Homo sapiens: one gene and its partners. The protein of the gene in region 2 interacts with the protein of the main gene of each other region in a pairwise test. Each region holds a gene or a part of one and is shown on either strand. Other genes may lie near its edges.

Evidence for each region.
Region 1: the proteins of GALNT15 (region 2) and MR1 interact in binary tests that used the Homo sapiens proteins (3 or more experiments, as listed by UniProt).
Region 3: the proteins of GALNT15 (region 2) and FCRL6 interact in binary tests that used the Homo sapiens proteins (3 or more experiments, as listed by UniProt).
Region 4: the proteins of GALNT15 (region 2) and SYNPR interact in binary tests that used the Homo sapiens proteins (3 or more experiments, as listed by UniProt).

What each region holds. Positions count from the first base shown.
Region 1 is NC_000001.11:181,028,723-181,037,925, reverse strand, and holds the start of MR1 (major histocompatibility complex class I-related protein 1 isoform 1 precursor), read right to left. Parts: upstream 3,944-9,203; 5' UTR 3,919-3,943; coding exon 3,852-3,918; intron 930-3,851; exon of another isoform or gene 814-929; intron 1-813. UniProt on the Homo sapiens protein: Antigen-presenting molecule specialized in displaying microbial pyrimidine-based metabolites to alpha-beta T cell receptors (TCR) on innate-type mucosal-associated invariant T (MAIT) cells.
Region 2 is NC_000003.12:16,204,943-16,213,749, forward strand, and holds part of GALNT15 (polypeptide N-acetylgalactosaminyltransferase 15), read left to right. Parts: intron 1-3,560; coding exon 3,561-3,728; intron 3,729-6,181; coding exon 6,182-6,299; intron 6,300-7,626; coding exon 7,627-7,821; intron 7,822-8,807. UniProt on the Homo sapiens protein: Catalyzes the initial reaction in O-linked oligosaccharide biosynthesis, the transfer of an N-acetyl-D-galactosamine residue to a serine or threonine residue on the protein receptor.
Region 3 is NC_000001.11:159,811,284-159,817,488, forward strand, and holds the end of FCRL6 (Fc receptor-like protein 6 isoform 1 precursor), read left to right. Parts: intron 1-2,205; coding exon 2,206-2,271; intron 2,272-2,937; coding exon 2,938-3,009; intron 3,010-4,144; coding exon 4,145-4,176; intron 4,177-4,252; coding exon 4,253-4,378; 3' UTR 4,379-4,974; downstream 4,975-6,205. UniProt on the Homo sapiens protein: Acts as a MHC class II receptor. When stimulated on its own, does not play a role in cytokine production or the release of cytotoxic granules by NK cells and cytotoxic CD8(+) T cells. Does not act as an Fc receptor.
Region 4 is NC_000003.12:63,281,308-63,288,307, reverse strand, and holds part of SYNPR (synaptoporin), read right to left. Parts: intron 1-7,000. UniProt on the Homo sapiens protein: Intrinsic membrane protein of small synaptic vesicles. Probable vesicular channel protein.

The DNA of each region.
Region 1 (9,203 bases), on a different chromosome or scaffold from region 2:
TTGAGCAGAGATGTGAATGGAGTAAGAAAGTGAGCCCTGTAGGACTATGTGGAGTTTTGGAAAACGAATGAATGAGCTCTGGTGTCTTTTTTCCCTCAGTACTCTCTGTACACAATGATGACTATATGTCTTATGTTTCCCAGAAAATCCCGATTTTATAAATTTTATTTTTCTAAAATGATCCTTTGAAGTTATAACAAAATGTGACTTAATATGTATACTCTTGAAAGATTTTCCCCGATAAATATAAATTCATACATCAGAAAAAACATCCTTTGTCATCTTTCTCAATTTGAGTTCCCTAAAATAAGTGTTCAAAGAGTCATGTGTTTGATCTTTAACTTAGGCTCCTTTCCTCCAGCTCTTAGCAATACTGTGGGGTAAGAGGATTGGGGTCAAGTGAGAATAGACAGATATTTCAACTAGTCAAAAGAAAAATCTACAAATTAGTTGAATTTCTCAAGTTTAGATAGATTCAATGCCAATTAAGAAGAGGGCCTTAGGGGAGTGAAACATTGTCTTGGAGAAATTTCTATGGCATATACCTTGGCAACAGCTCCATGGAAACAGACTGAAGTCTATCTAATAAAGTCTAAAGAAAAAGCCCATATTTTCTCATGTTAACTCTTTGAACTCAAGGTCACTTCTAAGCAGATAATATGCAAGTCTGTTTTTTAACAGTAACCCAGTTGGCAGCTTAGGGAGCTTATCCATCATCAGACCTCGCCTGTGAAGGACTCCACCATTCATGAAGTAGATTGATATAGCAGATTTATACAGCCATAAAATTATGAGTAATATCAAGAGACTGACCTTGGTTATGTCGAGATGAAACATACAAATCACATATGGCAATGCATGAGAAATCTCATGCCAGCCCCCAGTCTGATTACACCCACCCATATCGCCAATTCACAGTTTCACACAGGCTGAAATGAAGAACAAGATGAGTTGTAAAAGCATGAAACACCTTTTTAATACAAATCCTGCAACTACAGTAAGCCACAGTTTTGAATTTGCAGTCGTTATTACTGCCCGAGCTCTCTATGGCTCCCAGTCAAATAACTGTGATTTCTTAGGGACATTACCTCCGAACATAAATTCACTCAGCAAACATTTACTAAGTGCCTGTTGGGCACTAGGTATACCAGAGAAATAAGAAAAAAATGAAGATATCTCTTTCTGTCTTTAAGGAGAGCCTCAAAGAGAAGATTTTTGTAAATGGAAAATTACAGAACTGTGAACAGGAGCCATGGGAGCACAAAGGAAGGAGGAGTCAACTGCAGGCTGTGGAGTTGATGAAAGCAACACACTGAAAGTGATATTGGAGTTATGTTGACATTTCCTGGAGTAATGACCCACAACCCTGCAGTATCTCTTCCCCGTGTTTCCCCATCTATTACTGGTATATAGCTCCCACTCAGGGCTAGCACTAGGCATAAATATCAAGTAGACTGAGTCTTCTTTCATAATCTCATATCCTTTTCCAGCCAATATCCCTCAAAGCCCAGGAATGTTCAGTTAGGGTCCTAGCAGGAAACAGCCTTCAAGCCAGATGGGTCATGTGAGGAGACCTTAATGAAGGGACTCCTTGCAGAGATATGGTCAAGGTTAACGGAACAAACAAGGATGATGGGCATCTGCAGGCTAACAACTATGGGAAGCCATTATCACCCCTAGGGCTTAAGAGATAAGAATAGCAAATACCGTTACTGAAGCCCAATGGGAGCTAGAACCATGAAGAAGGGGTTATTCAGGGAAGACAGCATTACAGAAGAACATAGCTACTGCCAAAGACATCACAGAAAGTGGGGAAGGAGCAAGAAAGATGTATCCCAGCCTCTCTTTCCTCCCTGCTCTCTGACATCTCTCCTTTCAGTGTCTCCCATTGTATGAACCCAAGCAGAAATCAGCTTGCAAGAGAGTCTAGGTGATGCAGTCTAGCAGTCAGCCTCAAGGACACAGAACAGAACAGAGAAGGATGCACTCTAAGGAGTCAGAAGGAGAACAGCCAGCACCAAGTGACCTTCCCTTGCCTTTATAACTTACTTGTTTTATTTCCTGTCCCCCCAATTATCAAAGTGACAAGTCTTCACACCCAAAGGAGCAATGACATTGTGGAACAGCCCTGGACCGAGGGCCAGAAGATCTGCAGTCTCCTTCAGGTTGCTCCTTATGTGAGCGTGGTCACTCTCTAGGCCTAGAGAAAAATCTAGGCCTCATCTTTAAATGGGGATATTTTCTTCACCTACTACAAATAGTCAGTGAGATTGTCATAGGAGATAATATGTTTAAGGAATATTATTCCATATTATTGGAGAGTTCTTTGAGAATCACATGCAGGTAATATATAAGCTTTATTATTTCCAAAAATATCACCCTTTGCCTCTCTCCTCCTTTCCTCTTTCATCTTCTGCCTCTTACCCTCACCCCCAATCTTTCCCATAAATGATGACACTTTCTGGATTAAATTTTCATGGAAGCAGAGACTATGTTTGTCTTGTTCGCTGCCATATCCCCCAAAGTGCCTGGCACATAGTAGGCCATCAATCAATATTTGAACAATTAATATATGGATTTTTTTTTTTTGAGATGGAGTCTCACTCTGTCACCCAGGCTAGAGTGCAGTGGCATGATCTCGGCTCACTGCAACCTCCGCCTCCTGGGTTCAAGTGATTCTCCTGCCTCAGTCTCCCGAGTAGCTGGGATCACAGGTGCGCACTGTGCACAGCTAATTTTTTGTATTTTTAGTAGAGATGGGTGTGCCGAGCTAATTTTTTGTATTTTTAGTGAGATGGGGTTTCACTATGATGGCCAAGCTGGTTTCAAACTCCTGACCTCAAGCGATCCGTCTGCCTCGGCCTCTCAACGTGCTAGGATTACAGGTGTGAGCCACCACTCCCAGCCATATGATTTAAAATTTTTTTATTTGTATAAATTTATGATGTACACATGCAATTTTGTTATAGCATAGATTGTGTAGTGGTCAAGTTGGGGCTTTAAGGTATCCATCACCCAAGTAACACACATTGTACCCATTAAGTAATTTCTAATCATCCACCCCCCTCGCCCTTCCAAATCTCCATGGTCAGTCATTCCACTCTCTATGTGCATGGGTGATTTGAAAGAACTCCTTCCTCTCATGTTCATCAGTCACACCTATGGTGGTGGCCAAGTCTAAGTTCTGGACACTGCCCACCAGTACCAGTCCTCAGCCCAGGGAGCAAGTGATTAGGGCAGAGAAGCCTGGTGGTTCTAGCCCATGGGCCCTTTCCCCTATTTGAGGCAACAGAAGGCATTTGCTTCCCCAGTGACTTGAGCTCCCCGAATAATGAAAAACTCTCCCTTCTACTTGATTAATACTTCTCACAGTCAGTAAACAAACCCAGAGCCATGGTTTTATCTTTCTTGGATCTTTTATTACAGGTAGGGCTTGTGTTGAGGAAAAACATAAATAAACCTGAACAATGGATCTACTCCACTGTTAATGCCCCTGAAACTCTGACTACATCCTCATGAGACTCTGGAAGTTAGAAAAGAGGAGAAACAAAAGTAAAAGAAAAAATATGAGCAGAAAAGAAAGGAGGCCATGCTCAGAGGGAAAGTGAGGAAGTTCCAGAGTCTTTCTAGAACGGCTCCCCCTCCCTCAGAAGGTGGTGACATCAAAATCCTACAAATATGAACTGGGAAACTGTTCAGGCAATCCATTGCTCCTGGAGTCTGAGTGTAATACATACACGTTTCTGCCCCTGGCTTCTATATTTTTCACCACAAGTTTTAGGAAGAAAAGCTGTGCCTTCTAGGCTGCCTCGACTTTGGAGTTAGGAGAGAAGAGGACGTGGGATACTCACGGGAATCGCTGTGCTTCACCATTAACACAATGATGAGAGGTAACAGGAACGCCATCAGTTCCCCCATAGTCCTTCTCTTTCCGGGTTCTTTTAACCAAAAACTGACAGGTCCCTTCTGAGAACCTCTTGGTGACACACAAGGCCTTCTCCCAATAAGAACAGGGGAAGATATGCAGTGTCATCAGTTGCTAGGTTAAAAAAAAAAGATAAAATGAAAGCATGAACACCTTCTTCGGTAACTTTTAAGTCTTTGCTGGTTTCAGACACTGCTTGCTCCTTTTGGTGTATCTATCTTCACCCTATTCCCAATTTTTAAATATTTATGGAGCATAGTCATGTTCAAAGCACAGAGAAACAAAGATTAATCATATCTGGTCAATCAGGGAGCTCAAGCTGCTGCCTCTGCTTCCCTGGAGCTTAGAATTTTGCTTAAGGGTCAGTAAGAAAGAGTCACAGTTCCCACGGCTTGGAACTCCCTGCTCTGGCTCCCTATGATGCTGAAGTCTCTGTCTGAGATAGCAGGTGTCACTTAGATTGTCCCGTAATCTTCAACTTAGGTCTGTCCTCCCTGCTACTCTAGCACCCAGCACAATAAGCTCAAAACACTTACTGAATAAAAGAAGGCAAGAGAAAGGCCTACAGAAGATTCTGAGGGGCAGCCACTCAGCTTGCTCAATCAGCAATCCCCAAGATCAAGCTGTGGCTACACTGTCATAAGGAGCACATGACAAGCTGGAAAACAGCAGCTTAAGCTTGTCCAGGGAGCTAGGGAACAGGCCCAGACAGGAAAGAGGAAGTAGACATGAAGGGGAGAGGTGAATGGAGGCATGGCCATGAGGCAGGCAGGCTTGAGCTGGGTTCAGGGACCTGGGTTTGCCTCCCCACTATTTGACCATGGGCAGAATCCCAAATTGCACCAAGGCCTGATTTCTTCAACTTTAAAAGCAAATCCTGTCATATATTTCACAGAGTTGTTGAAGGATCAGAAGTTCTGTTTATGATGCATTTAGTAGGTAGTAGAACCTTATGTACCGGTTGTATGGTAGGTTGAGAATTGTCGCCCCAAAGATGTCCACAACCTAATTGCCAGAACCTGTGGATATATTACCTTAAATGGCAAAAACAAAATAAAACAAAACAAAACCCTTGGCAGATATGATTAAATTAAGGATCTTGAGACAGAGAGCTATCCTGGATTATCTGGTGGACCCAGTGTAATCAGAGGGGCCTTATTAGAGGGAGGCAAAAGGGTCAGAGTCAAGGAGATGTGACAATGGAAGCAAAGGTCAGAGTGATGATGCCATTGCTGAAAGAAGGACATGAGCCAAGGAACGCAGATGGCCTCTAGAACTAGAAAAGAGAAGGAACAGATTCTCCTTAGAGCCTCCAGAAGGAACACAACACTTTGATTTCAGCTGATAGGACACATTTTTGGACTTCTGTCCTCCAGAACTTTGAAAGAATAAATTTGCATTGTTCGAGGCCACTAAGTTGGTGGTAATTTGTTATAGCAGCAACAGGAAACTAATAGGTCTACCTTTACCCAGAATAAAATAAGAAGCCAAATAATGAAATTAACATTTGGCAATCTCTCAGCGGCCCCTGGCACCTTCTCTTCTCAGATCTTTGTATTTCTCTCTTCCTTTCCTTTCTGTTTCTTTACATTGTTTTTCCTTTTGTTACTCATTTAACAAATACAGTCACCTGGATTTCTCTTTTGGAAAACTCCCCCAATATTCCCAAATGTCTCTCAGCACTGGAATTCCATGGCCATGTATTTTTTCCTTTGAATTTTTGTTAATATCTTGTTCCAAAATGCATTCCATACCATAACCTGCTGTACTGACATTAAAAAGTAGGTATGAGGCCGGGCGCGGTGGCTCACGCCTGTAATCCCAGCACTTTGGGAGGCCGAGGCGGGCAGATCACGAGGTCAGGAGATCGAGACCATCCTGGAACATGGTGAAACCCTGTCTCTACTAAAAATACAAAAAATTAGCCAGGCGTGGTGGTGAGTGCCTGTAGTCCCAGCTACTCGGGAGGCTGAGGCAGGAGAATGGTGTGAACCCAGGAGGTAGAGGTTGCAGTGAGCTGAGATTGTGCCACTGCACTCCAGCCTGGGTGACAGAGCAAGGCTCCATCTCAAAAAAAAAAAAAAATGTAGGTATGTCAACGATGTCTTTCTTTTTTTTGAGACAGAGTCTCACTCTGTCGCCTAGGCTGAAGTGCAGTGGTGCCATCTCGGCTCACTGCAACCTCCGCCTCCCAGGTTCAAGCAATTCTCCTGACTCAGCCTCCTGAGTAGCTGGGATTACACACCCAGCTAATTTTTGTCTTTTTAGTAGAGATGGGGTTTTCCCATGTTGGCCAGGCTGGTCTTGAACTCCTGACCTCAGGATCCACCCACCTTGGCCTCCCAAAGTGCTGGGATTACAGGCGTGAGCCACCACACCTGACCGATGTCTTTCATTTTTTAAGTCATTGTATTCTAATTGCAAATTAGTAAATTTAATCCAGAGTACAGGGCAAATACATATAAAAAACCCAGAGAGTGATAAGATAAAAATCACCCATCAGAAAAAATTGCTGTTGGCCGGGCATGGTGGCTCACACCTGTAATCCCAACTTTGGGAGGCTGACGTGGGCAAATTGCTTGAGCCCAGGAGTTCAAGACCAGCCTGGGCAACATGGTGAAACCCCTATCTGTACTAAAAATACAAAAAATTAGCCAGGTGTGGTGCATGCGCCTGTAGTCTCAGCTACTTAGGTGGCTGAGGTGGGAGGATTGCTTGAGCCAGGGAGGTCAAGGCTGCAGTGAGCTGAGACGCCACTGTACTACAACCATGGCAACAGAAAGAAAGAAGGGAAGGAAGGAAGGAAGGAGAGAGAGAAGGAGGGAGGAAGAAAGGAAAAAATTTGCTGTTAACATATTTTAGTGTATTTCTTTTCAGTGGTTTTGCTGACTACATATGTCTGCATATAAGCATACCTTTATTTGTTCATTTTACCAAAAAAGGGTTTTACGTCCTAATAGTATTTTGTAAATTCTTTTCAAATTTATATTTTCCAATATTAATATGCAGTTTTTAATAGCATAGCTTTAATAGTCCTTAAAATTTTTAATAGATTCAATTATGCCAAGATCTTCAAGGACAGGTAAGACTGCCCCACTAAGCTGGGAGGCACTGAGGTAGGGAGAATCCCTCGCATTCTCTTTGTGGAAAAACAAGCCTCACCTCTGAGCAATAGTCTAAACTTAAATCTCAGGCCGCACTTTTCAGAGTGGGTTGTGCTTATCCTGTTCATTATAAATCCCTTTATGTGTTTGGCTTTTTAATACCTGATTTATTATATGTATTTTAAGGCCCCTCTGAGGAATCTGACTCATTTGCAGTTAGTGCAATTCATCCTTAAAAACCAAATGATGAATTATCAAGTTAGCAAAAGGGTCTTGTTTGTTAAATAATGTTGTTTTCAACATAATATATTTTATTATATTTAATCAGTAGTTTCCCCTTGGCTATTTCTTTTTTAATTCAGTAGAAGTGTGTGTGTGTGTGTGTGTGTGTGTGTGTGTGTCTGTGTCTGTGTCTGTGTCGAGTTTGATTTGAGCCCTTTTCTGTGGGTAGGTAAAATCCATTTGCCAATTTTTGGCCAAGGCTAGTCCTTGTACAAATGGGAGTAGAATACTGTAGCAAAGAACATGGGTTCAGGAGTCAAACTTATTTTCAAATGAGGCTCTGACATTTCCTACCTATGTGACCTTTGACCAAATTATTAACTTCTCTAAGTCTGGGATTTCTCATAGAAAATGGAGGTAATAACCAATTCTGCCTTACAGGATTATTGTGAGGATTCAATGAAATCAGCAGTGGTGGAACCAAGAAGTGACTTGTCACTTGTTGGGGCATTAGAGTACTTTTACTACACACGCATAATGGCCATCAGCTGTCTTAAGTAATCCCAAATAAACCTATAATTTAAGAAAAGAGGCCAGGCGCAGTGGCTCACGCCTGTAATCCCAGCACTTTGGGAGGCCAAGGTGGGCAGATCATGAGGTCAGGAGATCGAGACCAGCCTGGATAACATGGTGAAACCCCGTCTCTACTAAAAATACAAAAAATTAGCCGGGCGTGGTGGTGGTCGCCTGTAGTCCCAGCTACTCGGGAGGCTGAGGCAGGAGAATGGTGTGAACCTGGGAGGCAGAGCTTGCAGTGAGCAGAGATCGCACCACTGCACTCTAGCATGGGCGACAGAGTGAGACTCCATCTCAAAAAAAAAAAAAGAAAAGACAGGGGTCTCCCATGCCACATCAAGTCCCCTAGCCCTGCTGTCCAACCAAATTACATTCTAAAACCTGCCCCATATGGGGATTCTGGAGCTTCTGAAGATAATGCATGTGTGTCACTGTATTTGTTTTCACACTGCTGACAAATACATACCCAAGACTGGGCAATTTACAAAAGAAAGAGGTTTATTGGACTTACAGTTCCACATAGCTGGGGAGGCCTCACAATCATGGCTGAAGGCAAGGAAGAGTAAGCCACATCTTATGTGGATGGCAGCAGGCAGACAGGAGCTTGTGTAGGGAAACTCCACCTTATAATACTGCCAGATTTCATGAGACTTATTCGCTATCATGAGAACAGCACGGGAAAGACCTACCTCCATTATTCAATTACCTCCCACCAGGTCCCTCCCACCACAACACATGAGAATTCAAGATGAGATTTGGTTGGGTACACAGCCCAACCACATCGGTCACTTAGCACAATGCCTGGTACATAGTATGTAAATATTAGCAATCACTAGTACTATTATTGCAATGAGCCAGTTTACCAACACAGATTGATTTTTCTTTCCTTATACACAGTCACATTCATAAAGGATGGTAAAGAACATACCTCCCCTTCCTATAGTGGTTCAAATCCACCGTCTTGTCAAGAAATTCACTGAATTCCAATAACGTATTTCAGCTTTTTAGTACTCACCAATTTCCATTCATTCAGACCCTCCTAACTTGCCTTATTCTAAACAGGATTTAAAACTGTTATTTATTTATTTATTTATTTATTTTTTTGAGACAGGGTCTCACTGTCGCCTAGGCTGGAGTGCAGTGGCGTGAATATGGCTCACTACAACTTCTGCCTCCTGGCTCAAGTGATCCTCCCACCTCACCCTCACGAGTAGCTGGGACCATAGGCATAAGCCACTACACTTGGCTAATTTTTGTATTTTTTTTTTGTAGAGATGGGGTTTTGCCATGTTGCTCAGGCTGAAAACTGCTAACTTTTGATGTACTTTTTCGTATGTGGTCACTTGGCTTTTCACTTCTCTTTTATTACTTTTTCT
Region 2 (8,807 bases):
ATGTGCGTGCGTGTGTGTGTGCGCGCGCATGTGCGCGTCAAGGAGCAGCAGGAGGTCAGGATGCCTCCTGCCCCCCCAGAGGGAGCAGCCTTCTTTGGCTCAGGTGCCCCAAGGAAACTCTCCAGCAACCATCGTACTTCATACCCTTCAGCATGACACGTCCTCGTATCTGCCCCTGGAAAAGCCGATGCCAGTCCTGCGGTCACAACTGAGCAGCAAGAGCACTGGGAAGGGAGAATTCAGAGCCTTCTGCTTCTAGTATAAGAGACTTTCCACAAACACCAAGAATACGCATGAACTTTCAAAATGGCTTGTGTATCATGGACCTTGAGGAACATCCAGGCTCACGAGAATTAACAAGGAATGAGATAAACGAGGGCTTATTCTTTATTGTGGTAAAAGGTTATGGGAAGCTTGAAACTACAGTTAGCTCTTGAATATCTGGACAGTAATGTATTCGTTGATCTCACGTATTTCAGTGAACCAGTCTTTGTTGGCAGCTTGACTCCTTCTGTTTGCCTTTTGAAACATAAGCACTTGATCTCCTGGAACTTAGGCTCAACATAGGATCAACCTTGTACCTGCCTGAGGGTTAAAACTCAATTCACAGGTGAGGGACTGACGAAGTAAGCAGACACTTCCAGCTCCTTCCAAGTCAAACGAGGTCAGCTCGCTATTTTGCTTGACGTGAATTCCAAGAACACCAGACACATCGGTAGGTACAAAACCACAAAGCTAAATAGAAGACTGTGGGTTTTTTATTTGAATTAATCACCGTTTTTGAGTCAGTAGACTACAGTTAGTAATTTAGTCCTGCTAGGCAGCCACTGTGGTCCATGGGAATAAAGACCAAAATAGAAAACACTCCTCACTTCATTCACTGACATTTTATTCTTTATCTCTATCCAAAATGTACTCAGGGAAGCTCATGATTAATCACTCTTGTATACAGTTAAAATAGAGGAAAAAGAAGATTTCAGAAAGGAAAAGAGGGTATTGGGAATCAGGGGTAATACAGTTATTAGAAGTGAGTTTTACATGTGACTCTGAGCTTCCAGAAAGACAAAACAAAAAGAGAAACATAATGAATTTTAGAATTCTCATTTTCTAATAAAAAGCAACGTACTCCTTTGTTAAGAAGTACACAGCACAGGCTGGGTGCAGTGGCTCATACCTGTAATCTCAGCACTTTGGGAGGCCAAGGCTGGCAGATCACTTTGAGCTCAGGAGTTCGAGACTAGCCTCAACAACATGGCGAAATCCCATTTCTACACGCACACACACCCCCACACTAGCCGGGCATGGTGGCTCATGCCTGTAGTCCCAGCTACTCGGGGAGCTGAGGCTGAAGAATCCTTGGGCCTGGGAAGTGGAGGTTGCAGTGAGCGCAGATTGTGCCACTGCACTCCAGTCTGGGCGACAGAGTGAGACCATTTAAAAAAAAAAAAAGGCCGGGCGCGATGGTTCACGCCTGTAATCCCCAGCACTTTGGGAGGCTGAGGTTGGGGGATCACTAGGTCAGGAGATCGAGACCATCCTGGCTAACACGGTGAAAACCCGTGTATACTAAAAATACAAAAATTAGCCGGGCGTTGTGGCGGGCACCTGTAGTCCCAGCTACTTGGGAGGCTGAGGCAGGAGAATGGCGTGAACCTGGGAGGCGGAGCTTGCAGTGAACCGAGATCACGCCACTGCCCTCCAGCCTGGATAACAAAGCGAGACTCTGTCTAAAAAAAAAAAAAAAAAAAAAAAAGAAAGAAAGAAATACACAGCATAGAGGTCTAGGATGAATTGATTGCAGGAATGCTTGAATACAAGTCCCTTTCTTGTCCTCTTATGATTGCTGAAGGTGGCACAAATTTCATGCATTTCTTCCTAATTCAGCCACACAGTTCCCTGGCTCTTGATTCCAAAATTCCACAAAATGCTTTGCCAATAGCCAAATTTATCCATCTGCCTGATTCATTACACAGTAAGTGGAGGCTCTGGAAGGGGCTCTGGGTGCCCTCATTTCCTCCCTGGTCTAGGTTCTCAGTTTTCTTAGGTCAATACAGGGTACCCCAAAATAGGGGAAACCCAGAGGGATTATGTTCCCTTTGCCTTCCAGCAGAAACAATGTGAAAGAGGCAGGAAAAGCATATTAAGATCCTTGCTCTAAATATAGACCCCACAACTCCTTACACTTATGTCAGTTACCTAAAGCCATAGATTAAAGCAGATAATGAAATCATGGGGCCACCCTGGCTCTATCCAAGACAATGGAACAGAGATGGAATTTGATGGTAGTGTAAACACAATGTGGCTAGTATCTCCCCTCCCAGGAATCTCACTTCTCTTAGAGTGATATCTTCTAGCCACCCTGAAGTTCAGGCCTGATTCATTCCATGGCACAGATTGAAGACATAATTACCATGACAGGCCAGGGGGAGAAAATGTGATTGAGATATTGGCTAGGTGGATAGCAGCTCCTGGGACACCTGAGTGATTACCTACTTAGTTAAAAAGTATATGACCCATGTCAATTTCTCACATCACTCTGCAGTCATATCTCCAGGCTGTAAAAAAAAAAAAAAAAAAAAAAAAAAAAAAAAAAAAAAAAAATTGGGCCTAAAATTCCCCACCATTACCGGGAAATGAGCAAATAACCCAAAATAGTCAGGACTTTGATTATAGATACCAGATGTTCATATATGCATGCATTGACAGTAGGGTTACTTCTAGGGCTTGGAAATCCTGATTTCTCAAGCCAATCCAGTTTTACACTACAAGGAGGAAGAAGAACTAGACCTGAGAGCAGGGGTCCATAAACTCTCTGACATCGTGCACAATATTTTTTATATGGACATGGAAGATTTCATTCAGGAGTGGCCCATAGTTTTCCCCTGAATCTCAAAGGGATCAAGCACCCCAAAAGAAGTTAAGAGCCACAGTCCTAGAGCATTGCAGCTGAGAAAGGCCTTTGTGGGAAGTAGTTCAACCTCCCATTCTACAAATGAGGAAACTGAGGCCCAGAGAGGTATAACAGGTATCTCAAGATTACATAGTTCATTAGTAGCAGAGCTGAGCCTAGGACCCGTCTCTGTATCTCTCAGTGCTGTCAAGAAAGGTTTTTGAAGAAAGAAAAGTACTGGCATGCTCTTTAAAGCAATACACCCTAATTCCTTATGGAAAAACATTTTCTAGAACTGTGCTATATAATATAAATATAACACAAGCCACATATGTAATTAAAATACTTCTAATAGTCACATTACAAAATAAAAATAAACAGATGAAGTTAATTTTAATAATATAGTTCAGTAAACCCAATATATCCAAAATATTACCATTTCAACATATAATCAATGTAAAAATTATTAAGATTTTTGCATCATTTTTTCCATACTAAGTATTCTTAATCCAGGGTGTATTTTACACTTACTCCACACCTGATTTGGATAAACCCATTTTAGGTACGGGTGTCTGGTAGCCACCATACTGGGCAGCCCATGTACAGACTGTTTCCAGCCCCAGCAAGTAAATGCTTTACGTCCCTTGTTTAATTCCACAATTCTTTCCAGGAGCCGAGTGGTATCTCCGGTGATAGATGTGATTGACTGGAAGACTTTCCAGTATTACCCCTCAAAGGACCTGCAGCGTGGGGTGTTGGACTGGAAGCTGGATTTCCACTGGGAACCTTTGCCAGAGCATGTGAGGAAGGCCCTCCAGTCCCCCATAAGCCCCATCAGGTGAGTCCCCATTTCACACCTGCTTTGCCATTGCCTCCTCAGGATGGACTCTGCAGCCTGCCTGCCTGGGGTCTAATCCTACCTCCACAGTTTCCTAGTAAATTACTTAATGTATGCCACAGTTTCCTTTTCAGTAAATTGAGAGCAATCATAGTATTTACCTATAAGGGTTACCCTATAAGGGTTGTTGTGAAGATTGAATGAACTAATATGTGAAAAGCACTTAGAGAGTGCCAGGCACCCAGATGTAGGTGCTACCACCATTATATTGTCATATTCATAAAGTTCCGACAGGGTCTTCCAGATAGCATCAGTTAATGCCCCAGTGTGTGGCAACCTGAGATGGAATCTTGGCCCAGCTCTCTCATCAGGTACAGTGTGAATTCCTCAGGTCTCGTCTTAGCAAATAGGAAGAATTCAACCAGGTGAATGCTAAGAACCATAGGTCTCAAATATATCCTATTGTATGGGTCGCTTCTCACATGTTTGGTTTTTGGATGACTCTTCTATTTAAGTAGAAGTACTAGATATCTTATGCATAACAAATCACCTCAAACTTGGTGTAAAACACAGCCATTTTATTAAGCTCATGAATTCTGTGGGATATGAATTCTGAAAGGACACAGTGGGGTTGGTTGTCTGCCCCCATGGTTTCTGGGGTACATAAGGATTTTTAAAGTTTCCCAACACTATAAAGCCAGTGAGAGGTGAATCCAGAATTTAAACCCAGACAGCCAGGCCCTTGAGACGACTGCTTCACTGCTATGCTATATTTTAAATACAAGGCCACAGTTCATTATTCACAATTGCAAAATCCAAAAAGCTCTAAAAACCAAACATTTGTTTAATAATTCATTAGGCAGCAGGCCAGATGCAGTGACTCATGCCTGTAATCCTAGCACTTTGGGAGGCAGAGGCGGGCTGATCACTCGAGGCCAGGAGTTCGAGACCAACCTGGCCATCATGGCGAAACCCCATCTCTACTAAAATTACAAAAAAAAATTAGCTGGGCATGGTAGCACACTCCTGTAGTCCCAGTTACTTGGGAGGCTGAGGCACAAGAATCACTGGAACCCAGGAGGCAGAGGTTGCAATGAGCTGAGACCACACTACTGCACTCTAGCCTGGGTGACAGAGCAAGATTCTGTCTCAAAAACAAAAAACAAAAACAAAATCATTAGGCAGCAAAAGCTGCCCTGAACTGACATGGGGTGTCTGCATTGGCCTTATTTATCCCACTTACTGCTTACTGTGAAAATATGTGTGTTTCATCAAAGAAATATTAGTATATTTGACTAAAGAGTGCCGGGCAGACCCCACTAGGACTGATGTGTGGTATACGATGTATGTCCCTCTTTAAAGTCCAAAAAATTCTGCATTAAAAAGCACACTGGTCCCACAGGTGTCAGAAAAGGAATGCTGAACTTGTAACATCAAAATCCAGTGAGCGTTTAAAATGTGGCATGCACAGAGCTACATATTTTACATGGCTTACCTTAGTCATCCCGCAAAACCCAATTATGAAACACTATTTTATCCCCAATTAGAGGTGAGGAAGCTGAGCTCAAAGACACATAGCCCACCTAAGATCTTACAAATTGGGAGTGGCAGAGTTGGAAATTATACTGAATAATCATTACAATATCAGTTTTTAGTATTTTGGTATAATGTAGAATTTTTATAACCTAAAGACCAGTAGCTTTGTTAATGCATTACTATTTCTTTGGTAATTAAGAAAAATCTGAACTCTTAGTCATTTACACTTTGAAAAATTCCCAGAGTTTGGCTGCATTCAAATTTGTTCCTCCTAGATGAAGGGACCCTTTTTCAAAAACCCTCTGACTACATCTTTCTCTGTTTAAAATCCCTCTGAGGGATATTATGATCTTAATTCCCTTATTAAAGGTTTCTAGCTTCTTGTGTTTATAAATCATGTATTTTTCCCCTAGGGCAGTGGGGACTTATCTGCTTCCAGGGTCCCTGGTGGATTCATCATAGAATTGGGAAGAGGGTGGATGGTCATTAGGAAAACAGAAGAGGGTGAGAAAAAGAAAGGAGGAAAGAGCCTGACCATGTCGCCGTGTCAGGCCTGGTGCTACCTCTCTTAGAGTACCTGATTTTAAGCAAGGCCTTCTTCCCAAACATCTTTCCAGAGGGACTCAAGCCAGAGGGCAGGGGAGTCTCAGGTGTGGTCCCTAGGCCCTCTCTAGGAGCAGTATCTGAGGACAGAGTATAGAAGGCCCAGGCAAGAATAGCTCTCTTTCCATCAAACACTGGGATTTCTGACATCGTGGCTCTGCTCCAGTCTTGCAATTAAAAAATTGCATTTTACCTGAGCCTAAAGCCTGTTCTCTCAGCCACTGGAGCTCCCACCTGGGAAGCCCCAGCCCCCAGCCTCGCCTGCTGTGCTCTGGGTTCTGAACTGCAGTGTCCTGCCTGTCTTCTGTGTCCAGGAGCCCTGTGGTGCCCGGAGAGGTGGTGGCCATGGACAGACATTACTTCCAAAACACTGGAGCGTATGACTCTCTTATGTCGCTGCGAGGTGGTGAAAACCTCGAACTGTCTTTCAAGGTATGTCCTGGACCAAGGGAGGACAGAGGTGGGATCTCTGGAGTGGTGTGTATGGTCACAGCTCAGAGGCAGGCATTAGAAATGTCACTGGGAAGGAATGAGGCTGTGGGAAAATTATAAAGTCATTCCTGTGTTGTGTGTCAAACCTCCCATTTCTCACAGTTTCCCATCTCTCCTGTGCTGTAGCTTGGTTTCACTCTCAGTGCCTTCAAAACCTGCTTCCAGGAATAGGCATACTCTCAGTTATTTTAACTGCTGTGCGGAGATTCCAGAGGCTCTCATACATTCTCTATTCACAGCGCTCTTAGCATCTTAGTAATTTTTTCACAGCACCCATAGTCCAAAACAAATACCTGAAGTTCTGTGTATTGAGTAGTTTGGTCCAAACAATGTAATACTTGTCATAAAAACTTAGCACCTGTTGGGCACCACACAACTTCTCAAACCTTGGAGTCACCCTCATTTCCTGTCCCACATTGCTTTTCTAGCATGATACTTGCTTTTTCATCACAGTATCCTCCGAAAACCCAACACCAAAAAAAATTCATCATCAAGAGTGCAGAGATCTAATGCTGAAAGTGTGAATTACCTGACGCTTGTATTCTGCATGAAGTCCAACAGATGTCACCGTGTTTCTCTCAAAAATTTAACCCCAGACCCTATGAGTTTGCTGTGGCACCCTGGGGCACCTTGGCACATAATTTGGGAACTCCAGTTTTGGTGTTTCCATTCATATGCTGCTTATCCTAGGACAGTACTTCTACTTTAACCTTTATCCTCAAATGTGGAATGAAAGTCTTCCTGCCGAATGAACTCCAGCCGTTTGGGAGTGGGAGAGCAGAGGGAAATTTCTTGAAATAGTAAAGACTGTGTCTCAGGAAAGCTTGCTTCTGTCTCTACCACAAACAGCTTCTGGTGTCTTTGTAGCACACTTCACAAGCTTTGAGATATTCCCGGACCACTGAGATCATCTTTTTCCCTGAGGAAGTGTCCTTTGGGGAATAGGGGTGCTAATTCACATGCTACATCTCTCTAAGTGCTGGACCTGCATGTGTTTGAAGGGCAGCATATTCAGGTAGTTGCCTGGGGATGGCCCTCTTGTCCCCATTTTGGGACAACTACCTCTATTCTCTCCACCCTGTCACTCCCCTGCCCAGAACCTCCAAATCTGGAAACTCTACGCCACCCTGAGGACCATAATCATCTTCACCATTGAGTGCTCACGATTTCCTGTGCATTTTGCCAGCCCCTCATAGATAGGGCTCCCTATTTCCCGCCGTTCTTAAAGGTGGAATGCTGAGGTGTTTATCTTTTCCCTTCGTGGCAGGCCTGGCTCTGTGGTGGCTCTGTTGAAATCCTTCCCTGCTCTCGGGTAGGACACATCTACCAAAATCAGGATTCCCATTCCCCCCTCGACCAGGAGGCCACCCTGAGGAACAGGGTTCGCATTGCTGAGACCTGGCTGGGGTCATTCAAAGAAACCTTCTACAAGCATAGCCCAGAGGCCTTCTCCTTGAGCAAGGTAAGGAGAGAGCCAAGTGGGGCTTCTGTGTCCAGCACAGGGCCACTAGCAGGAGGTGGGCCAGGGAGGGCTCCTTTCTCTTGCCTGGAGGGGAAAACAGAAGATTCTGGCTTGAGCTTCCCTCATGCTGCCCTATTTTAAGTGGCTCCTCCACCTGGTGAGGCTGTCCTTTGTCTCTCTGGCTTCTCCATGGGACAGCACAGCTGGCCTTGGCCTGAAGCTCCCTAACATCTATGGGATGACATCTATGGGATGGGATCCCTCACCTGGGGCCAGGGGAGGGGTTGGCACAGAGAAGCGATGAGATGGGTCTCCAAGGCCAGGTCTCCTTTCATCCTGAGCAAAGGGCTCAGGGCTATGAAATGATCCAAGACATGAAACAAATATTAAATATAAAAATAGAGTCCAAAGGCCAGGCGCGGTGGCTCATGCCTGTAATCCCAGCACTTTGGGAGGCCGAGGTGGGTGGATCACGAGGTCAGGAGATCGAGACCATCCTGGCTAACATGGTGAAACCCCGTCTCTACTAAAAATACAAAAAATTAGCCAGGTGTGGTGGTGGGCGCCTGTGGTCCCTGCTACTCGGGAGGCTGAGGCAGGAGAATGGCATGAAGCTGGGAGGTGGAGTTTGAGGTGAGCTGAGATCACGCCACTGCACTCCAGCCTGAGTGACAGAGCAACTCCATCTCAAAAAAAAAAAAAAAAAAAATAGAGTCCAAAAAAGCCACAGAAAAATAAAAATTTTAAACATTTAAATGTCCACAAACAGCACATTATCAATTGGTCAGTGGCTGCTCAGCCCAGTCCTTCCAGATTGACCCATAAATGCTGTTTAATGTGGGAAATGGGTTCACATTAATGCTTGCTGTGCTGAAAGTGGGGGCTCCAAAGACAAGATTCCCAGGACCCACAACAGTCCTGGAGCAGCTCCCACAAGCCCCTTAGCAGCCCACACTGCTGGGGTGTGAGTTAGATGTGAGTTTGCA
Region 3 (6,205 bases), on a different chromosome or scaffold from region 2:
CTAGTGCTTCAAATCCACCTACAGAGGTTCAAATCAACCCCACTTCCTCCTCTGCAGGGGCAATGTTATTTTCTGCTTGTCTAGGACAAAAGTGATTGTTCTCATAGACCTCCAAAGCTAGATGTACTTATTTAAGTTTGCAGCTCCCTCTGTTGAGAAATTTGGGATGAGTTTTCTAGGAGCTGGACCAGCCTGATAATTAAGGAAGACCACCCAGTCATATGTTCAAAGCATTCCTTCCTGCATCCACCAGGGTACCTGAAAAGGTCTCTTCCCACCCCTAGTCCCAACACTCTGCCTCACCAGGTGCCTAGTTAAGGCTTGGACCAGACTTCAACTTCCTCTCCCCTTTTGAATATGTAGTCTTTGTCCATACAACTTCCCATCCCCACCCTTCTCACTAGTCTTGAGTCTGGATTCAATACAGGCTAGACTTGCTTTAAGGTATTCTTTCATAGTGGGGGAAAAGGAGAGGATGCCCAGAGCTATTGGGGAGGCAGCCGGAGTAGGGAACCACAAACCAAAGATCTGTGAGTTATGCTGTCATTGTGTCTAATAAATCCTCCTCCAAAGGGCCCAGCCTGGCCTCGGTAATACAGGTGTTTCTGTTTCTGTCCACTCACCTCTGAGTCAAAGCATTAAATGCAGAGCAATGGCAGAGTAATGTAGCACAACTGCCTCCCTCCCCAGCCCCAGACGAGATGGTGAAAGAGTGGTCACTAGTGAAAGATCCTCAAGAACAAGATACCTTTCACAGGGAACAAAAGAGCATCCTCTTGATGTAGAGATTATAAACCATCACCACCACACCCACTGCCAACCTTGGAGCAGGTGGGCTTCATTTTACTAAGGAACCTGTCTCTCATGCAAACAGGACTGCTGGTGGTGATCTTAATATCTCAGAATCTCAGGCGCACAAAATATTCTTTAGAATATTGCTCAGAAAGTCACTTTCAGGACCAATTCCTTAGCTACGCAGGAAAAACAGCCAGATCAATAGCCTTGTTCTCCACACCCAGCTCTGGGAGACTCACAACCATTTCCAAATAGCATAGCTGTTCTTCAGCAAACAGAAATATGCCACCGCCAAAGACAGTCTACAGATGTCATGTCCAAAGTCAATTTTTAGAACATTTGACCAATGATGGTGTTACTGGAACAAGGATATGGTCATGCAAGGGGTCCACTTCAAAGTAGCACTCACCTGCATGTACAGGTTCTGCTGTGCTTGTTTAAAAGTGTTCCTTTTACTACCAGTTGTCACACATCCCGTAAAACAAAGTTCTGTCAAACTCATGGAACTCTTCATTGAATGGAGACTTAGAAACTGAGGCTCATTTCTCAGCCCTGACGAATGAGCGTTGGAGAATGCTTAATCACTGGGGATCTGTCTAAGTCTCCATAAATCCCCTCTTGATTTTACAGAAGGAGCCATTTCCACATATCCTACCCAGTGATTCTGATGCTTTCTAGCTCTTAGAGTAATGAGTATTTCTTGGGCACCAGGCATGAACCAAGTGTTCTAAAATCTACATGTGACTCAATTCCTATCCCAAGAGTTACCTTTAAAGTTCTGGAAGCACCTGCTGTTCCAGAGGCAGCATGCTAGTAGAGAAAAGGCATGCAAACCTGGATTAAGATTCTGTCTCCACTACTTACTGTGACCTTATAGAAGTCGCCTCTCCCAGCTCCAGTCACCTCATCTATGAAATGGAGATAAAAGTATCAACCTTTGCAAGATGGTTGTGAAAACCATTAGACGCCAAAGAATTAGGAAGAGAGGTGTTTTTGAAATCCAACTATGTGCTGGTCACTGGTTAGGTGCTTTACTAGGAAGATTATATTTTATTTGGATTGCCTGGCCCAGTGTCTGGCATATAGTGTATGGTCAAAGTTATTAGCTTTTTTCCTTCTGAAAAGCAGCTTGACTGGTAAGCCTAGGCCCTCTTCATGCAAAAATGTGATCCATTCTTGCTGACCTTACTTCCTCCTAGTTTGTGATTCCCATGGAGCCATCTAGGGTATTTTTCAAAGGAAACATCCCATAAAAATCAACCATGTCCAGACCTGTGAACTAGCCCTCCTAACCAAACCAGCCTCAAACCTCCAGCGGCCTCCTTGTCATTCTTGCTCACAGCTTTCCTGTCCCCTGTCCCACCTGCCCTCTAAGGGACACCCAGTGAATCATGCCCTTGTATCTCCTAGGGCCCCTTCCATCCCAGATACCACCCACAGCTCCAGGTGGAGAGCAGTGCCCACTATATGCCAACGGTAAGGACTTCCAGCAGGATGGTGGTGTGCCCATGTGGGCCAAAAAGAGCTTCTTAAGGGAAGTAAGAAGGGAGCTCTCCAGAGCCCTGTATCTCAGGAATTGGAGTGATCTGGGGAAGGAAAACAAACAGCTTCTAGAAAGGGCATGAAGAGGGAGTGCTGTGGAGCTGGTGGTGGGAGAAGGGGGTGGGAAGGGAGCCAGGGCTGCAGGAGACGGGGCAGGGAAGGTTTGGACCAAGGGTTGGCAAACTTGTGGCCCATGGGCCAAACCCAGCACACTGCCTGTTTTTGTAGATAAAGTTTTACTGTAACACACACATGCTCATTGGTTTATTTTGTTTGAGAGCTTTCATATTACAGAGTTAACATTTGTGACAGAGATTATACAGCTCACAAAGCCAAAAATATGTACACCTTTTTTACAGAAAAATTTTGTCAACCTCTGGTTTAAACAGTGTCAGGGCTAGGGAAGCTGCAAAAAAAAAATGTTAAGGGGGCCTGACTCCCCTTGCCATGATGGCTATCCCCACATTAGTGACCAACCCTCATTGCCACTTATCACCATAACAGAGCCCCTGATGGGCTTCTCTCCATGTCTTCAGGACACTTATGACATGAGGTGGGAGAGTCAGGAGGATCCTATTTAAGCCTCATTCCTTCTTCCAGTGCATCACCAGAAAGGGAAAGATGAAGGTGTTGTCTACTCTGTGGTGCATAGAACCTCAAAGAGGAGTGAAGGTGAGTGATCTCAGGCCAAACTTGGTACCTTTGCAAACAGAAGTTTTGGACCTACAATGAGAGTATCACTACCACTGTCATTACCACTTTTATCATTACTGTGACCACCATCACTATCACCAAGACCATCATATTTATCTCCATTATTGTCACCACCATCTCCTCCTTCACTACCACCTTCACCTTCACACCATCATCAATGCTACCATGACCACCACCACCTATCTCCTCCACTACCACGCTCACCACAAACACCACTATGACCACTATATTCACCATTCTCAACATCATCTCCTCCACACTGTTACCATGATAAGTGCAGGGAGTTTTTTGCCCTTTCCTGAACAATGTGAAGGACAAAGAAAAGAGAGAAAAAATGATGTAGTCTTCCTTTGCTCCAGAGTCTAAGTCTAAACAGGACAGTCTCCACTATAAGATGGAGTCAAGAAGACCATGGGCTCCAGCCACAGCTATCAGAGTCAGTTGGCAGAGATGGGGGAAAGGCTGGTCCTTTAACAGAGAAATAGGCCATGTGGCATCATGAGAAGAATGTGGGTTTCTGAGTCTCAGAACTGAGTTTGAAACCTGACTCTATGTACTTATTCACTGTTGACTTGGCAAGTCAAGTGTCCTCTCTGGGCCTAATCTGCAAAGGGGAGACAATGCCTGCTTTGCAGGACTACTGTAAGTTGTTAGGAATAGAACCTAGGTTCTAGAAACAAACCTTAAAAATTGTCTACATGTAATAGATGTTCAAAACAGGGAGTTTTGTTGTTGCTGTCGTTTTAATGTCTTATCTGCCCTGCTAATTCAGTTCCTAATCTGCAAAAATGGGTTTGAATTGGCGTAGGGTTTCTGCTCCTTCCCATAAATGGCAGTAGGGGAAATGAACAGTCAAGGAGTCTCTTAATTGAAGGGCAGTTCCCCCAGGACCTGAGGTCACACAGCTGGTGTGTAGTCCAGCTGGAACTAGAACCCAGGTCTCCCAATTCCAGGTTGAGGAGGAGTGAAAGGAATCTCCCCTGGCTGGCTTCCCTGGCTTTCTAGAGGAAGATAGCCAGCCAGGAGGGGTGGGAAGGAGATGTACTTGCTGTGGAGCACAGAGACCTGACCTGAGCTCATTCTTTCCCCACAGCCAGGTCTGCTGAGTTCACCGTGGGGAGAAAGGTGAGCTGGGATCCCTGCTCCTTTCTCACCCTCTCTCTTACATTTGCTTCCTCATCCTGAGCCAACTCTTCCACAGGACAGTTCTATCATCTGTGCGGAGGTGAGATGCCTGCAGCCCAGTGAGGTTTCATCCACGGAGGTGAATATGAGAAGCAGGACTCTCCAAGAACCCCTTAGCGACTGTGAGGAGGTTCTCTGCTAGTGATGGTGTTCTCCTATCAACACACGCCCACCCCCAGTCTCCAGTGCTCCTCAGGAAGACAGTGGGGTCCTCAACTCTTTCTGTGGGTCCTTCAGTTCCCAAGCCCAGCATCACAGAGCCCCCTGAGCCCTTGTCCTGGTCAGGAGCACCTGAACCCTGGGTTCTTTTCTTAGCAGAAGACCAACCAATGGAATGGGAAGGGAGATGCTCCCACCAACACACACACTTAGGTTCAATCAGTGACACTGGACACATAAGCCACAGATGTCTTCTTTCCATACAAGCATGTTAGTTCGCCCCAATATACATATATATATGAAATAGTCATGTGCCGCATAACAACATTTCAGTCAGTGATAGACTGCATACACAACAGTGGTCCCATAAGACTGTAATGGAGTTTAAAAATTCCTACTGCCTAGTGATATCATAGTTGCCTTAACATCATAACACAACACATTTCTCACGCGTTTGTGGTGATGCTGGTACAAACAAGCTACAGCGCCGCTAGTCATATACAAATATAGCACATACAATTATGTACAGTACACTATACTTGATAATGATAATAAACAACTATGTTACTGGTTTATGTATTTACTATAACTTTTTCTTTTTGAGACGGAGTTTTGCTCTGTCGCCCAGTCTGGAGTGCAATGGCACAATCTCGGCTCACTGTAACCTCTGCCTCCCGAGTTCAAGCGATTCTCTTGCTTCAGTGTCCTGAGTAGCTGGGACTACAGGCATGCACCACCACGCCCGGCTAATTTTTGTATTTGTTAGTAGAGATGGGGTTTCACCATGTTGGCCAGACTGGTCTCGAACTCCTGACCTCAAGTGATCCACCCGCCTCGGTCTCCCAAAGTGCTGGGATTACAGGTGTGAGCCACCGCACCCAGCCCTGTATTTACTGTAACTTTTTATTGTTATTTTGGAATATATTCCTTCTACTTATTTTTTTTAAGTTAACTATAAAACAGCCTCAAGCAGGTCCTTCAGGAAGTATCCAGAAGGAGCCCTTGTTATGATAGGAGATGACAGCTCCATGTGTGTTATTGCCTCTGAAGACTTTCCAGCGGGACAAGATGAGGTGGTGGAAGACAGTGATATTGATGATCCTGACCCTGTGTAGACCTAGGCTAATGTGTGTGTTTATTTATGTCTTAGTTTTTAACAAAAAAGTTTAAAAAGTAAAAAAAAAATAATAATTTTAAAAATAGAAAAAAGCTTATATAAAAATATTTTGTATAGTTATACAATGTGTTTGTTTCAAGCTAAGGTTTATTACAGAAGTCAAAAAGTTTTAAAAACCTAAAAAGTTTATAAAGTAAAAATGTTACACTGAGCTAAGTTTCATTTATCACTGAAGAATTTTTTTTTTTTTTTTTTTTTTTTTGAGACAGAGTCTCACTCTGTCATCCAGGCTGGAGTGCAATGGTACAATCTCAGGTCACTGCAATCTTTGCCTCCTGGGTTCAAGCGATTCTCCTGCCTCAGCCTCCCGAGTAGCTGGGATTACAGGCATGCACCACCACACCTGACTAATTTTTGTATATTTAGTAGAGATGGGGTTTCGCCATGTTGGCCAGGCTGGTCTCGAACCCCAGACCTCAACTGATCCGCCCTCCTCAGCCTCCCAAAAGTACTAGGATTACAGCCATGAGCCACTGTGCCTGACCTGAAGAAAATACTTTCATGAATTTAGTGTAGTCTAAGCAGTGTTGATAAAGCCTGCAGTAGTGTACAATAATGTCCTAGGCCTTCACATTCACTCACCACTCACTCACTGACTCACCCAGAGCAACCCCAGCCCTGCAAGCTCCATTC
Region 4 (7,000 bases), about 47 Mb from region 2:
AAGGATCGTCATGATCGCTGCTCCAGCTGAAAGAAGAGACAAAAGGGGAATGTTTCGAATATCATGACCCTTTTTATTCAGGCCACAAGTGACAGGATAGCAGTGGGCATTTGATCTATGGCAACCAATTTGTAGACTGGCTATTGACTTATGATATTGCCTGGGGTTGATAGTTGTGTCCAAACTAAAATAATTTTTTTGTTAGTTGAACCAATCATATTCTTTCTGTTAGGACATTAGATAAGAATAATGACAAGAATAAATGGGAAACAGAAAGGGAACACAGAGAGAGGGCAGGCAGGACAGTGACAAAGACATAATAATAGTGGCACTCTTGCTAAGGCATTCTTGCTGCTCATTGACGTGAACCCAAGATATGAGACCTGAGCCTGTTTCAGTCCTTGAACTTTTATTTCTGTAAAAGTTCTCCACCATTATCATGCAGTGGGTATCCCTATAATAGCCCTGTTTCCTTGACAGCGGTGCCTATGTGACTTACTCTCCTCCATAACCAAGCTAAACAATTGTTTCCAGGGAAAGCTTCACAATTCCACTTCACAATGAAGACCATTAAGGGGAATTTACATCTCATCCAATGTGTTACCAATAATTCATTTACATATTCTTTATTCCCTTTCTTCCCTCCTTCTTCTCTCATTTTCTTAACCAATACTTTCTAAGCACCTACTGCCTGGGTGTTTTGGTGGAGATTGCCGATGTCCCTGATGTTGGCCTTACTGTGTGTTAAGCACTGTGTTAGAAACATAAAATGCGCTGATGAGCAGGACCAACAAGATCCCTGCTCTCACACTGCATTTACTCTGATTGAGTAGCTAGAATGAAAAGTCATTAAAAAGTGTGGTCTGGGAGCCGTCAGAAGGCTGACCTTATCTAGTAAGACCTCCCTAGACAGTGGTATCTACATTGACACTGAAGGGAGAAGAAGAATTCATCAACTAAAAAAAGGTGAGCAAAAGGGAGAGGGAGCATTCTGGGCAGTGGAAGTGGCATGTACAAAAGTTCATGAGAACAGCAAGAAACCGTCACCAGGCCCCTAAAACATCAAGAAATGTGAAACGTGTACAGAGCAAGAAATTGTCTCTTGGTATGAGAGTTAAAAGGGTGAGGATGGACCACATTCCCCTCTCCTAAGGAACATTCCCCAGTAAAGTTTGGATAATTCATTACATTCGACTGGCAGCATCATCCTTTCTTGTAGGCTTCAAAGAGACCAAAGAGACTGGCATGGAAGGCAGAGGGTGATAAGTGGTTGGAAGGACTTAGTTCCTTAGGGAACAGAGATCAAGTTCTTACACTTCACACCTCACCCTGTGCTCTGTCCAGTAACTATATTACGCTGCCCAGAGTCATTTAGGTTGGAAAAAGGTATTTCTTTATCATCACCATCATCATGGTCACAATTATCATTTACTTTAGAAGGATAGTTAACAGTTTGCTAAACACTTTTTCATGCTTGATCTCACTTAAAATTTTCAACACTATAGGCAGGAGATATTGCCCCCAGTTTTCAGGTTAGGAAACTGAGGTCTTTAAAGGAGCCTAAGCTAGTACATTGAACAGGAATAATAACAAATACAACAAAAGTCAAATACATCCCCACAGAAGATGAAGACTCAAAGGAAGACCGTGGTTCTGTGCACATACTCCTTAGAGATTTTCTACTTTTCTTCTACTAGCACATGACTGTTTTTCTTCTGTCCCCATACCTCAGTCAGTGAGAGATGTGGGTCGTCTGCAGAACAAAGAACTAAGGATGGTGTTTCTACTTCAGCATAACTCCAGGGTTTTCCCCAGTTTCTATGGGGGAACACCCAAGGGCCTGGAGCACCTGGGCATTACAATGTGGTTAGTAAGTGCCTGTATCTGACCCTATAAGGACCCTCAGCACATCCTGGAGAATTCAGTTGGGGCCACTGTGTCTCTTTCAAGTGTACGAAATTGTCTATGGATTGTTATTTGAGAAAGACCAGGAAAAGTATCTCTTCACACCTCTACGACAAACCCCTGAAGGCCAAGTGCTTGCAATTCTTCCATTAGACGTTCTCGTTTAGGTTCAATACTGGCCTTGCTGGAATTTTCTTTGAAATGTGAATATTCCAAGGAGCAAGCGCCTGAAGAGTCACTCATACTATGGTAAAAATAGACTTGCCAGTTTGAGGGCCCTCCACAGTGGAATATAGAGATAGAGGGGCTAAAAAGAGGTATGAGCAAGTCTGGATACAAATTTCTACCTCAGAGTTTTGCCAAGACTTTAACTTGCAAAAAGTTATCTGTAATTTCCTAAATTATCCTTTGATGAATTTCTACTTTCTCCCTTTTCATCACCGTCATAACCGCTGGCATCGTTATCATCATCACCTTCATAATCTTTTATTGAGCACTTATCACAGTGTAGGTACTAAGCAAGGTACCTTACTTGGATAAATCATTAAATCATGATAGCATCACTTTGAAGTAGGAACTATTATTAGCCCTATCTTATAGATGAGAAAAATGAAGCCTAGTGAATTTAACTTGCCCAAGGTAACAAAGCTAGTAAAAAATAAAATCTGAATTCAAATCCATAAGAAGCATTCCTGACCCTTTTCTCTTTTTTTCTGTACTTGTGAGGCCAAATACCAGTTGTCTTAATACACTCAGGAAAGCATTAAGTGATGAATCCATCTGGACACTGAGGAGCTGCTTGTTTGTTGTGCACTTATTGATTCATACTCCAATTGCACATGATTGTTGTCACCAATTGAGAGGCTAGAAGGTTGTAATTAAACCCACATTAATATAGCTTTAAATTACATCAAACTGTCAATCGTAGATTGCTGCTCACGATTTAAATAAATTTTCTGTAAGAATTCCCCGTCTTGTTTATACACAGGAAGAAAATGAGTTCTCTGACTTATGCACACTTTTTTTAACAAAAGAGGAAAAGATAAAAAATGAGATTAAATTATTGCCTTTGTAATCGAAGTCTTTTTCTACATATTTAAAATGAAAAGTACTGGTTTTTAATTGGAATCAACTCTACCTTGATTAATTAATAACTAACAGAAAATAGAAGCCAAATATAAAAGACAGTTGATGTCTGTTGAATTCATCTCTAAATACAAATGTTCCTTGGCATTTTCAGAAAAGACCTCAAATATGTAAGTTGATGACTGAGATAAACACTGTAAAATAGGATAACATCTGCTTTTTAAAGCTTCTTTGAGGATCAGGGATAAGATATGGCAAGTGCTTGCCACATTGGAAAAAGCAGGAGTGTAGCATTTAAGAGAATGAAGTTGGGAGTGAGGCTGCTCAAATCTTGGCTTTGGCATTTCCCTCAATTTTGTCCCTGATGAGTTGGTTAACATCTTTGAGCCTCCTGGAGAAACGGGAATGTTAAAGTTACACAGATTCAACACAATGATGTAAGAAAAACACAGTAATATAGTCCCCCATATGATGCCTGCATGACAAAGGTAGCTGTTATTACTTCTCTCATTAGGAGTTTAAAATGATGGCTACTATAAAATTGTATTTATTGTATGTTATGACGACACATTTCACTTTGTTGTTATCAATAGCATAAATTATAAATGTTATTAATATTAAGAAAGCAGTATGATATTTGCTTGAAAAACGTGGCTTAGAATTTAAATTCAGGAATGAAGATTATATAAATGCTAGTGTCTCCATTTAAATCAAGTAGACCTATACCTCACATATCGACATGCTGCATCTTTGGATTCACTGGCCGCCTTGGTTAGGCAGGGAGGTAGGCTGGAAAGGGAAAATGGTGATGTGAAACCCAGGGTTATAGCAGAAGGTATTGCAAAATTAGGGATGAATGTCAAAAATAAGGATTAGAAGAATTAGGCAAATTGAGTCAGCAGTTTATTCCATAGGCACAGAATCTAGGGCTGCAGCATTGTGTTGGAGAACTATGCAAGCCACACAAATATTGTTTTGGAGAGTTTAAGTTCTTTTGATGACCTTAAGTCTGCACCAGTGTAGTTCTGAACAACATGGATGTGTGGAGTCCTCCACTTTTCATTTCACATAAATCTACAGGTACAAATTCAGTGCATTGCATATAGTAAAGAAAGAATTACTAACATCATTTTTTAGAAGAAAAGGGAAAAAAAGAGACCAAAGGTCAACTGGCAAAATACTAAAGTAGCAAAATAAGAATTACCTGTGGGTCGGGCATGGTAGCTCACGCCTGTAATCCCAGCACTTTGGGAGGCCGAGGCCGGCAGATCACGAGGTCAGGAGATCGAGACCATCCTGGCTAACACGGTGAAACCCTGTCTCTACTAAAAATACAAAAAATTAGCCAGGCGTGGTGGCAGGCGCCTGTAGTCCCAGCTACTCGGGAGGCTGAGGCAGGAGAACCCGGAAGGCAGAGCTTGCAGTGAGCTGAGTTGGCGCCATTGCGCTCCAGCCTGGGCAGCCTAGCGAGACTCCGTCTCAAAAAAAAAAAAAAAAAAAAAAAAAGGTAATTATCTGTGGAAGGACTATACCAACTTAGTTTTCCAGAGTAGTCTGAAAATGGGGTAAGTTTAATATGTACATTTTGCCATTTCCAAATGATAGTTTAAGAGATTTGCTGGACCTATTTTATCACTGCCCTCCATCGTGGGTGACAGAGTGAGACTCCGTCTCAAAAAAAAAAAAAAAAAAAGAATTATCTGTGGAAGACAGGACTATGCCAACTTAGTTTTCCAGAGTGGTCTGAAAATAGGGTAAGTTTAATATATACATTTTGCCATTTCCAAATGATGGTTTAAAAGATTTGCTGGACCTATTTTATCATCAGGGAATAAATGTAAAAGACCACCAGAGTCAGTGCTATGTCCCGACTTTTCCGTTTTGACCTAAAAGATAGTGAAAAGTACCCTGACCTCATTTAAGTAGAGATTAAGGATGTGGGAGTTTTGCCTGCAAGTCTTGAAATTGGCTAAAGCTTTCCCCTCAAGGCTGGACTTTTATATGTTATTAAGACTTTAAATCTACTGTATCCGTGAACCCTTCCTAAGGAAAGAACACGTAAATAAAGTGGATTTTTTCCCCAGGCTATAAAATCCAAAAGTAGAAGATGACATTAAAGGTAATACCAGTTCATGTGGGTAATCCATAGAAAATAATGTAAAATATGAGCTATTTTAAAGAATTTCTTGTGTGTGTGCACAACTGTAGACAGGTGATAGGCCCACAACTCTTCCTGCATACCACAGTTTACCATCAACCTCTCCCGTTCTCTACCTACTGCATCTCAAATTACACCCTTCTGAAAAAATCAATTTTAACAGTTCAGTGCTTTATATCTACACTTCCCTCTGTGTTCATACAAATTGCACACACGCACACTCACTCACATACAAAACTATATTTTTTATTTGTGCAAATACAGGACTCTGTATATTATTTTGAAATATGATTCAATAAATTATCTACATGTTTATTCAAAGGATAAATACTGGTTTTTCCATTTAGCAATTTTATCAAATACAAAGAATGAAACTTATGTTTTCTCACTTAACAATTTTATCAAATACAATGATATATTTACCTGCAGGTCAATGCATATTAATTGAATTCATTCTTTTTTTTTTTTTTTTTTCTGAGACAGTGTCTCACTTTGTCGTCCAGGATGAAGTGCAGTGAAGTGACCACAGCTCACTGTAGCCTTGACCTCGTGGGCTCAAGCGATCCTCCCACCTCAGTTTCAGAAGTAGCTGGGGCTATAGGCATGCACCACAATGCCTAATTTTTTAAATTTCTTTTCCTTTTTTACAATCTCACATTATTTTTATTTGATCATAGTACGGACAATAAAAATGTATTCCTATTCTTTTTGATACTAACAGTTTTACTAAATTTGTTTTCAGTTTCTCTCAAATAACACATAGCATATCTTGTTGATATGGAACTTCATATTCATTTAGATCCAGTATGTTCATTAGAATAATATAGCCTTCTGATTTTAAAAGCAACTGATTGCTTATAGAAAAATGATATGCATCGACATTTAGTCAGAAAAAGAAACATGAGAACATGTCTTTTATGTTTGATATCACTTAACTTACAAGATGATGTGAAAATAGTTTGGTTATAATTTTAACAAAACTAAAACTCACTTCAACTAATGAAAAAAATCAAACACTGAAGAATCAAATATCTACTGACTTAGCTGGTATTCCTGTCAAAAGACATGTCTTCTGCTGCACTGAATATTAGAATTAGAAATTCACTATATGTTAAGCCATATTTTAATTAATATGTTCCAGAATTGCACAGCTTCCCTATGTTGGCTAGGCTGGTCTTGAACTCCTGGGCTCAAGCAATCCTCCCATCTCAGCCTCCCAAAGTGCTGAGATTATAGGCATGAGCCACCATCCCTGGCTAATTCATTCTTTTTGATGGCAATATAATATTTCATAACATGATGAATCATACTTTAATTATTTTCTTATAATGGACTTACTAGTTATTTCCAGTTCTTTTCACTACAGATGATGTTGCAATAAATATTCTTGAGAATATTGCTATTATCTGAATGTTTATGCCTCCCCCCAAGTTCACATGTTGAAATATAGTTCCCAAAGTGATGGTCTTAGGGGGTGGGGCCTTTGGGAGGTGATTAGCTCATAAATGTGGAGCCCTTGTGAATGGGATTAGTGTTCTTATAAGGGACAGACGAGATCAGAGTTCTTCCCTTCTGCTATGAGAAGACACAGCAAGAAGGCTCCATCTGTGAACCAGAAAGTAGGCCCTCACTAAACAACGAATCTGATGGCACCTTGATCTTAGACTTTCCAGTATTCAGAACTATGAGAAATAAATTTCTGTTGTGTATAAGCTATCCAGTTTATGGTGTTTTGTTATAGCAACCCCCAAAACTAAGATACATATATCTTTACATGCATGTTTATTTCTACAGCATGGGGAAATTGCAGCTTAAAGACACTGTCAAGTTTAAAGCTGCTCTCCATTGCTT